2 separate regions of the Homo sapiens genome follow, and region 2 is linked to region 1. The links come from fine-mapping of genetic effects on gene expression. A gene starts in region 1. The other region holds a variant in brackets. All regions are shown on one strand. Distances are from middle to middle.

What was found. PIP is the estimated chance that this variant, and not a neighbour inherited with it, causes the effect.
Region 2: its variant is the best candidate, but not a certain one, in a credible set for the expression of THSD7B in coronary artery (GTEx, PIP 0.73).

Annotation. Positions count from the first base shown.
Region 1 is chr2:136,762,967-136,768,349 of GRCh38, reverse strand. THSD7B (thrombospondin type 1 domain containing 7B) reads right to left here and starts at 2,805. Exons shown (of 28, transcript NM_001316349.2): 1 at 2,663-2,805. RefSeq lists an enhancer at 2,322-2,823.
Region 2 is chr2:136,705,421-136,710,803 of GRCh38, reverse strand. No RefSeq gene overlaps it. Among named protein-coding and RNA genes, the nearest start is that of THSD7B, 57 kb to the left of the region's middle. The variant T/C (reference allele first, on the strand shown) is at 2,752.

The DNA of each region.
Region 1 (5,383 bases):
AGTGAGTTGACATGCTTTAGAATTGTTCTTGTTTGGACATTCTCCCTCCTTTAACTTAGAGCCTATCTTTTTATTCTGCTTTTTCGGTCTATCATTTAAGGACAACATTCTTTTTGCTGATATTAACAAAAGAGTTATTCCTTCAGAAATAGGATCTGTAGCAAGCAGACAAGGTCCTTCATAGCCCTTCTGATGAAGTACAATTTAGTACCATTTTCCTTTCATTCCTTCCCTACTTTCTCTCAAAAGGCACACTCAGCAGAGAACAGAAAGGTACCTCTCGTTACCAATTTGTTAATGTCAGTCTTCAAACAGTAGAGTCTGTATTTACATTGTTTATATGATCGGTAATTATTTTCTACCTGTCTAACAGTGTTCCTCTTTCTTAGCCTTTCAACTCTCTAACAATCAACAACTTTGATGGAAAACAATGGGCCAGAAGATTAAGAAATATTGTAAGATCATTTCTCAAGTATTGATTTAAATATTAAGGTTGACATAAAGTGAGCTCATCGTATTATGAACCCTCAAAACAGACTATCAAAGTCCACCAACAGTAGACAGCCCTTTCCTGGACCACGTATCTCCAAGCCCTTATCACAGATTAATCTAGAATATCCAAAACCCTGAATGGTTTGTAGGTGTTCAGGGCTGCTGGATCTGTCTGTGCTGATTTATACGAGACTATCCGATGTTTTTAAAGTCAACAATGACACCTACAATTTTTTCAGAAGTATCTGTGTATATTGTTACAGTGTCAGAAGAATTTTCTTCATAATTTTTTTCACTTAAATTTGCATGAAAAAGAGTTTCTAACCCTCAACTCTCAGCAGGTAGATGAAGAAAACACACACACACAAATACACACAACACACACACACACACACACACACTTCCCAGGGATAGAAAATAAAACAATTCCAGGGAATCTACCAGATTAGATCAACTACCCTCAGAAAACAGAGAACTGGCCACATTACTTTTCAAAAGAAGACTCCTATTATTAATGGCACTAAGGTTTAAAAACAGCAGTCTGTCAAAGTGAAGCCTCAAGACAGAAACTTTATAAACAGCTTTTAACCCACAAAGACACGAGCTTTCACTCACCACTGAGTAAGACTTCTTGATTTGGTTAGTAACACCCTAAGTGGCTTTCAGGAAGCCTTCACCAACTGCTGAGTAGACAGTCAAGAGCACAAAAAGGCTTCCCTGGAGATTACCTCCTCCTAGTTACTCGAGAAACTCAGATTGCCCTGACACTGCCAGACAAATAACTGTATCCCTTTGACATCCAAAGATTACCTGTCAAAAGGAAACTCCAAACACACACGTTCACACGCACGCGCATGTATACACACACACACAAACACACACACACCCCACCACAGTCTGGTTGGCATGAGCCCTACCTGCATGGGTTACCATTTCCATGATAACAGAGCACTCACAGGTGTACCGCTGAGAAACACCAGGCAGACCGTCATTTAAAGAGCTCCAAGGAGTCTGAGGGTGGGAAACTGCCGGCTTTCAGCAGACCACCCTGGCAATGAACAGAGCGCCAAGGAACCCTGGTATCTTCCGTAGAATATGCCACGGTCCCATAATCTTAGTGGAACTTCACCTTGACTGTACAGTATTGAATCGCAATACCTCTTATGGGAAGCTCTGAGCTCAGACATTCCAAAAGAAAAAAGTACCACCTTCGCCAACGAAAGTTTTTTTCTTGTCTTTAAAAAGGGATAGAGTGAGAGAGCTTAACGCCCCCTCCTCAACATTCCCTCGTCCCCTGCAAAGTTTTCCAACTTCAAAATACGCGGTCACCAAAGAGCGGGGTTCATTTGCTTATTCAAATAACTTTAATACTATGGGACATGTAAGACAGCAAAGGGGACAGGTGCAGATGGGCGATGCAGTAGAAAATATGCCTGTCCCCCCCTCCCTGCCCCTCACTCTCAAGCCCCGTTCCCAGTTTCCTCTCCACAAACAGCAGGATATCACGTCCGAGCCCAGCTTGCCCCTAGCCACTCGCAGGGACAGGGGAAATGTAAACTGTTGCTACAGCCTCCTGACACTCCACCGATAAATCAGAGGAAGCTGCAAAACTTCTTGGCTTGCTCAGCTATCCTCCACTGGCACTGAACGCCTATGCACAGATTTCGCAGTCAGCGCTACGGGAAAGGAAACCCTCAGTCAACCTGTTTGCAAAGCCTGCAGAACAACTCCCGGCCTTTCGATTTTGGGCGCCGAGGCTCTCCGCGCAGGACGGGAAACCCCCGGTTTCCTTCATCAGTATCCCTCAAACCAAGCTGGAGGTGAAGGGAACAGAGCTCCTGCTGCCCGGGTCCCAAGGTTCGGTCCCGTTGCATGAGGTCGGTGCTCAGGTCGCCGCGTGGGGCGTCCCCGCCCGCCTAGAGGGTCTCCGCACACTGCGCCCCGGGCAGCCCACGCTTCCCGCAGCCCCAAGCCAGAGGCGTCCGAGAAGATCCGCTTCCAAGTTCCCGCGTCTGGCTGGGAGAAGGGGCGACGATGGCTGTCCGGCGAGGAAAGAGCAAAGTCTGCGCCGGCAGCGCGCCCCCTTCCCCGGCGCTGCCACCCCGCGCCCCAGTCGGCCGGCCAGGGGGCCCGGCATCCCCGACTCGGGGCTCCGCGTGCTTGCACTCACCCGTCTCGCCAGAGCCGCCGCCGTAACCTCTGGGAGCCGCTGAGCCCCGAGCTTCCCGAGCGCAAGAAAGATGGTGGTGTGTGTCGGAAGACCACCCATTCCAGCGTCTGGCAACCCGGCGGCGACTCTGGCTCCTCAGCACTGAAGGAGGAGGAGGAGGAAGAGAAGGAGGAGGAGGAAGAGAAGGAGGAGGAGGAGGAGGAGGAAGGAACGGCGCAGTCAGACGCCATCTGCTGTACACCTCTGCGCAGCCATTGGCTGCCTGGTGCGTCCGAGAGCCGCGGGGCGCGGGGCCGCGGGGAGCCACCTTGCGCCTCGCCTACCCCGGCAGCTGTTCCCCACCGCCCCCTCTTTCTCCCCCCTCTCCTCCGCCTCCTACCGCCTCTGCCGCGCACCCGCACGACCCTCGGCTCAGCCTGCTCCCCAAGGCGAGCGACCGCGGGCGCGCTGGCCTGGACCTCAGTTCCTCTGCTCCCCGCAACTGTTTGCCGCAACTTTGAAGCTTCGGGGTGCCGGTGCGGGCTGGGTAAGGGGACTCCCCAGCTGAGCTCAGCCCGGAGTACCCAAGCCACTGAGCCCAGGAGAGGGTCGAGCGCTTTGCGCCTCGGAGGTCCATGAAGTGATGGGGGAAGAGAGCAAGAAAGAGTGGGGGTGCCCTAGGCCCCTGTTGATAACGCGCCCCAACACGCACACATGCGCGACACTCCGACACACAGTAAAACACACACACCGAGCCATCCCGCAAGGTCCGGATGGTCTGGCGTTCCTCTGCAGTCCCCGGGCACGAGAGGGCTTCGGTGTTACTAGGAGAAAAGACAAAGAAAATCCTATCTGGGGAGTACCCCTAGCAGCATACGTGGGGGAGAGAGAAAGGGAAACATTGTGGTGACTCCGGGAAACGCCGGGAGCTGGGTGCATACCTGCCTGGACATCCCCCCTGTTGCGGGGCTCCCAGCGACTGTCAGCCCACGCCCACCAGAGCCTGGGAAAACCCCTAGCTCTGGGGCCTCTGTTTAAAGGATTTGCAGTCCCGGGGCGCGGGGACCGGAGTTGCGGGAAGGAGCGCCTTAGGCTCCTGGGTAGCTCATGCCGGAAGCAGCAAAGGAGGTGGAGAGTCCGAGTCAGCCCAGGTGAGGCAGGAGTGCAGACAGCGGAGAGCACGTGGGCAGTCGAGGAGCAGAGTCACAGCTCAGAAAGTCGTTTGCTTACTCTCTGACACTTGTTCCAAACCCTTCTGGTTTTTGACACCTTTGATCTAGGGAACTTCTTAAGCTTGTTCAGAGAGATGAAGTTGCTTCAAAAGGGAGAAGGGGCGGGGGGAAGCATGAGGACTACCTATTGCCAATTACAGGATATTTTGCCTGTCAAATCTCTTTAAATGTGTGAGCCCAGCGACAGCAGGGATTGTATCTTTTCTATTTTATCCAATGCCTGGCACACCATGGGTGCTTAAAATGAAGCAAAATAATAATGATAAAATTAAAGCTTGATGTCATAGAGCAAATTAGATTCAAGAGATAAATAGAGAAGCTAGGATCTGTCACAGATAAAAAGAAATCAAAAGAATGTAAGTGCCATTGTAAAGAAAGATGTGAATATATTGGTAAGGGGCTTCAACTCAGCTTGCTGTGGGATGATGGGTTCTGAAAGCAGGGAAGCCTTACTTAATATTTTAAACAGCAATCGCTATTCTCCCACTACAGTCACATTCTGGGTTATGCTTTTTTTTTTTCCTGACATCACTGTCTTAAAAATAAATCAGCTGCCAACCAGATCCCAGAATATTTTCTTAAATCCAAGACCATGATTTATTACTCTCAAGAGATAAAAGGCCAATCCTGTGACCCAGGGGAGAGAGAAACTGGTCCATTATGTTTTATTGTAATCTCAATATATACAGATCAATAGCCAATGAGTCTCATTTAAGTAACTTCAGGAACAACAGCCAAAGAAAAACATTTCTGTTTTCTTGAACTATTATACCCAGGCTTCCCAGGTTTCAGTTTTCCCAGAATCAATGCTGCATTTTCAGGCCACACCCCCTGCACACACACCCCCATATGGGAGAAAGACTTGTGTTTGCAATCTGTCTGGAAAAAAAGATATCAAGGATGACTTCTGAGTATGGCATGTATGGACATCTTAGTAGTTATTTGTCCCCCTCCCTCACCAGAGACAATGATACGTATATTTTCCTTTAGGCTGGCAATTTGCTTTCAACGTGCATTCTGATTTAATATGCCAGCCCATTCTCATTAACCCTTTGCTCTACGTCAGCAATCACTTACGATACCCAAGAATACTTTGATTCTTAAGACACAACTTTTCTCCTCTGAGGCATTGTTTGTGTTTGGTCTCCTGGTTTTTGAATCTAGGATATGAGATTATAGTCATATGGTAATTCTGTTGGGCTTCTTAAAATAAAAAAGGAGAATGAAATCTAAATTATTTTTGAAAAATAAAGAACCATGAATGTTAAACTTGTTACATTTGATTCCTTTAGAGAACAATCACTTTTCATTAAGGCACTGCTGACAACATATATTTCAGTATAGTCAAAGAGTATAAGATGTCTGAACTTTATCTGTGTGATTACATACAAATTTTGTAGACGGAGAATGCAAGCACAAGACTCATTCTAACTTTCTCTTTCCATTTCTAGCTCAAATTCCCAATTTATATTTTAAATGTATATTTTACTCATAATATGAGTTTCTTGCC
Region 2 (5,383 bases), 58 kb after region 1:
GGGGAGGGATAGCATTAGGAGATATACCTAATGCTAAATGACATGTTAATGGGTGCAGCACACCAACATGGCACATGTATACATATGTAACAAATCTGCACGTTGTGCACATGTACCCTAAAACTTAAAGTATAATAATAATAAAATAAAATAAAATAAAAAGGAGCTTATAGTTAGTCAAACAATAATAGGAATAATAATAATGGAGAGTGATAAATTCCACACTAAATGCAGGCACAACACACTAGCCTAGCACAGAAAAGTACCACCTTATTCCTTACCTAGAGTTATGATGCAAACTTCTGCCACTGAAATCTATTAGTAGGGATTTATTAGCCTTTATCTTCTCTAACTAATCTTTTTCCTCTATTATATACAGAAATAAAGGTTTAAATCAATCGGTGTAGCCTATCTTCTAAATGCATAGCAAATAAACATAGCGAATGTGTACAGAAACCACCAAAAAGATTTATACATATCTTCCTTTATTTTCCTGATTTATTAATGAAGTCACAATTACAAGGAATTTTAAGTAAGGCTGTTCTTGGCTAGGGAAAATTCCTCAAACTCAACATCAAAAAGCACTATTTATACCTCCCAAGATTCTTTATTCTCTAGTTAAATAGAAAATGCCCAATTCAACGATGTTCTTAGCTTTAGAGATCTTCTGAAGTCAGAAATAGTCACTAAAAATTGTTAGGATTTGTTTTTAGTCATGAGGATTTACTTAAGAACAGGGGTGGTGCAAAAGGAGGAAAGAAGAACTTGAGAAGAGACAACTTTCATGTATAATCAATCATGTATGTGTTATGTTAACTACAGTAATGGGTAGAAGGGCAATCATTTGTCCTGTTAAAGTTAGGGTGACTCCAAGTCAGAACCAATATTAGCCAATGGCAGAACAAAAGGCAAATTTTATAGGATTTTTGAAGAGAAGGAACACAAAGGTTATACAGACATCAACATAATTCAAAGGAAGGTAAAAGTCCCAGCTCCAAGAAACTACAAGACAATTGGTGTGAGCTCATTTGTCACAAGCAGTAAAGGATGCTAGCAGGTAGAAAGAGGGTGAACTTCAGAAATACATGGGTAATTCAGACTGTAAAATTTGAGCAAAAATCATAGAATAAATTGAGTTCTATTCCATAGACTAGATGAAACATGCTGCTATGAAGAGAAAAGAAGAGGGAAAATAACTTCCTAAGATTCATTTCTTTCTTTTAATTACCAAAACAAAATCTATTTAGAGATAGAATCTCTTTCTGCTGCCCAAGCTAGAGTTCAGTGGCACAGCCATAGCTCACTGTAGCCTCAAACTCCTGGGCTCAAGTGATCCTCCCACACCAGCCTCCTGAGTAGCTAGAACTAAAGATGTGTGCCATCATGTTTGGCTATTTTTTTTTTTAGAGAGAGAGACAGGATCTTGCTATGTTGTCCAGGCTTGTCTCGAACTCCTGGCAATCTTCCTGCCTTGGCATCCCAAAGCACGGGAATTACAGACATGAGCCATTGCACCTGGCCTAAGGTTATTTTCTATTTGTTAATTTACATGATTTTATGAAGACTGAAAACTTTTGGTGAACCTGAATTTAAGCAAAGCCAGCCCTAATTGATGCAAGAGAGTAGTACCAACCTCTTACAGCCAAAAGGTTTCCTGTACTCTTTTTTTTTTTTTTTTTTTTCAGATGGAGTCTCACTCTATCACCAGACTGGAGTGCAATGGCATGATCTCAGCTCACTACAACCTCTGCCTCCTGGGTTCAAACGATTCCCCTGCCTCAGCCTCCCAAGTAGCTGGGACTACAGGCACGTGCCACCACACCTGGCTAATTTTTTGCATTTTCGTAGAGACAGGGTTTCACCATGTTGGCCAGGATGGTCTCAATCTCCTGACCTCATGATCCGCCCGCCTTGGCCTCCCAAAGTGCTGGGATTACAGGCATGAGCCACCAAACCCAGCCCTTCCTGGACTCTTAAGCAGGCTCTGTAAACAGAACTCTAATACTAAAACTCTTCCTCCAGAGGGAAAGAGGTAGTAGGGGAGAGTAAAACACTTCTATTCATAGTGTATATCTTCCTTGTTTCTAAAAGGGAGCTTAGGGGTAACTTAAAAGTATATAGTAAAATCATTAAGGTACTGGTGCTCTGTCATCTCTATTTCTCTGACACACCTTGCTCATAGCTCTGCCCATGGTAGAAGTAGGAGTAATACATATCTAACGAATACAGATGGATTAATTAATATTCAGCAGAATAAACAAAGCTAAGATGCAATCACTGGCATTTTCTACTAAAAAACTAAATACCTGGCCCCTTGCAACCAACCTATCTAGGAGAATCTCAGAACTTAGTAAAATGCTTGCTTCACAGTAGATCCTCTAAATAACTGACATTTCAATGAACAAATGAATGCAGTGGATTCAAATGGCAGGATTGATTCTTTCATCCTGATTCTCATAAACCCCCAAATCACTAATGCAGCATTAAGTGCAGTTAGATATTAATTGAGGCAGAGTGGCCAGCTTCTCTCTGCCCTGGCGTCATAGTTTCGATAATCATGGATATATTTAGGATGTCGCAGTCAGAAAATTGTTCTTCTCCAAGGAAAAATTTCCCAATTATCAAAGGAAGTGTCTTCAGGTCCCCCAAATGAGTTCACAAAGACATAGATGTTGACCTTAAGGAAGGGATTTTTTTTCTACTTTCTCTTATTCAAATGCTGTGCCTAAGTTTGCAACTTCATGGTTTATT[T/C]GCAGAAGAGCTTCTGCACGCAGGCATACTGCCTGTCTAGAGAACACGCCATGAGCCCTGCTTCGGAAGACCGCACACCATTTAACCAAAGGATTTAAATCCATGGTCATATGTTTATCTCTCTCCACTTCATTACACTTGATGGAAAAGAGAAAGCACAGAATATTTTCCAAGCAACTGGCTTCTGGCTTTTTGTTTTTCAAGTGGCCTTTTAAGTGTGGAATGCCATGGATAAGGTTCGGCAACCACCTTCTCAGGGATGGGAAAGGTATACTTACGAATGGGATGTAGTTTAGTCCAATTTATATAGTTTATCTGAAAATATTTTTTCAAAGCAGGTGATGAAGCAAGGTGACACTTCAAAGTTTCCTGTCAGTCTTAAGAAAATATAAAACTCACGTAAATTAGTGTGCTTAGGCCACTCTGATCCTGATATCCTTATTTGTTTATCATAAGTGTGCCACAATGTCACCCTCCACTGCACCACCATCCCAGAGAGGTTACCTCCTCAAACTGCCTATTAAGCAAGAAAAGAAATAATTTCTTCCTTTGTATGTGGTGTGGTGACAAGAATCTCCCAAAAGAGTGAAGCTTGAAATTCAATTAGAGATACCTAAAGTCAAGGAAAGTCTTGTTTGAGTGTATTTCTCCACAATTCTACTGTCCTTTATTAGAACAGCATTTCTGGACCACATTTGTGTGTTGATATGATGAAACCTCCTGAGTCTGTCCCAGAAACAAACATGTAGACAAGTAATGTATATATTTCAGGTGGTCCACAGGATCCCCCTAAGCCCATTCATGGAATTCCTAGGGAATACTTGGGTTCCAGGTTAAAACTTCTTGCTCCAAAATTTGCTTCTTTTCCCTGTGTGTCCTGCATTGGTCAGAGTAGGAGAAATATCTCATTATTTTGAAAAAAAAAAAAAAAGGAAAGAAGAATCAGGAACTCTTGGGCAACCTTTAAAATGACACACACACACACACAAAAACCTGTAACTTCTAAATACCTGAACCTAACTTTTGATTCCTAATTGAGGCTCCAGAGTTTTCAAAGACAATGAGTACATGATGCATTCTTTCATTCATCAAGTACTTACTGAGTACCTCCCAAATGCCAGGTGCAGTAGTAGTCATTAAAGTTAGAAATGAAAGGTGTTCTTTTGATTTATAAGGAGCATATAAAATATAGACAAGTAATGCATCATAATACAGAATTATAAGTGCTGATATGGAGGTTAAGGTGAGTGTTATATGGTAATACAAAAGATCGAAGGGTGTGAGGGGCTGGAGAGCAACAAGAAAGTCTCCATGCAGAAAATACTCCCTGAGCCGAGTCATGAACAAATAGCAAGCCAAGGGAAAAAGGAGGCTTGAGCAGCCTGCACAATGGTATGAAGGTCAGAAAGAGTGTGATGCTTTCAGAGAATGGCAAACAATGATATGTCTAGAGCCTAAGAAGTGGTAAAAAGGAAAGTTGAAAGAGTAGGCAGAGGCTATTTCTTGAAGGGCCTTGTGGAGCATGCCAAGCAGCTTGGATTTTATTGAAGGAAAAGTAGAGCAACTGAAGGAGTTTAAGATGAGGAGTGCTGTCCAGCGAGCATTTTAGAAAGGTCACGAGCAGATGCAAAAAAAAATTAATTGCTGAATTGCCAGAGTTCTAAGATTTCATAGAAGAGGTGTCAGTCATTCCAACTCTAGATTATTCCAAAACAAATAACCCTTAGAGCATTTAGACACTCATGTTGCCCAAAGATCCTTAGATTTATTTGGATGAGCCGTTTTTTTCTTCGCTATCCAAGTCCTTCCAAGTGCAGAACATAAATAATGACCACATTCCCAATAAAGATGAAAAGGAATATCTGAAATACAGTGAATTAGATTTCTACCACAAAGTTAGTGGCTTAAAACAATACGAATCCATTATTTTATAGTAGGTTAGAAGTTTGACTCAGGTCTCATTCAGCTATAACCAATGTGTTAGCAGAGCTGCATGCCATTCTGGAGTCTTTAAAGAAGAAGATATTTCCTTGCCTTTTCTAACTTCTAGATGACACTCAAATTCCTTGGCTCATGGCTCCCTTCCTCCATCTTCAAAGTCAGCAAGTGAAGTCTCTCTCCCACTCTTATTCCATAGTAACATCACTCTCTGACCACAGCTGGGAAAGGTTCTCCACTTTTAAACACTTGTGTGGTTAAACTGTGCACATCTGGATAACCCAAGATAGTCTCCCTCTCTCAAGTTCTATACCCTTAATCATATCTGCAATGTGAATTAACAGTTTCATGATTCAGAGGATTAGGACATGAGCATTTTGGGGTGGCAGGCAGGAAGGGGCGTTATTCTATCTCCCACAAAGAGATTTGGCAATTTCTTCTGCTTTCACTAGTACTACTTGACCAGTAAAAGACAATTCGGCAACAAAATGTCACATAATTTCTTCTATTCTGGGGTGTCTCCAACTCACTTAAAGCATTTGACAAGATGCATAATTATGTCTAAACAAATTCCTTATTTTAGAAACACCAACTGGCTTCAATCCTCAGTTGAGGAGTGTGTTAAGGCCTTGAATGTGTTCTCAGTATCATCAAGCATTGCATAGAAAGAGAAATCAGTAAAAGAGTCAGTCCT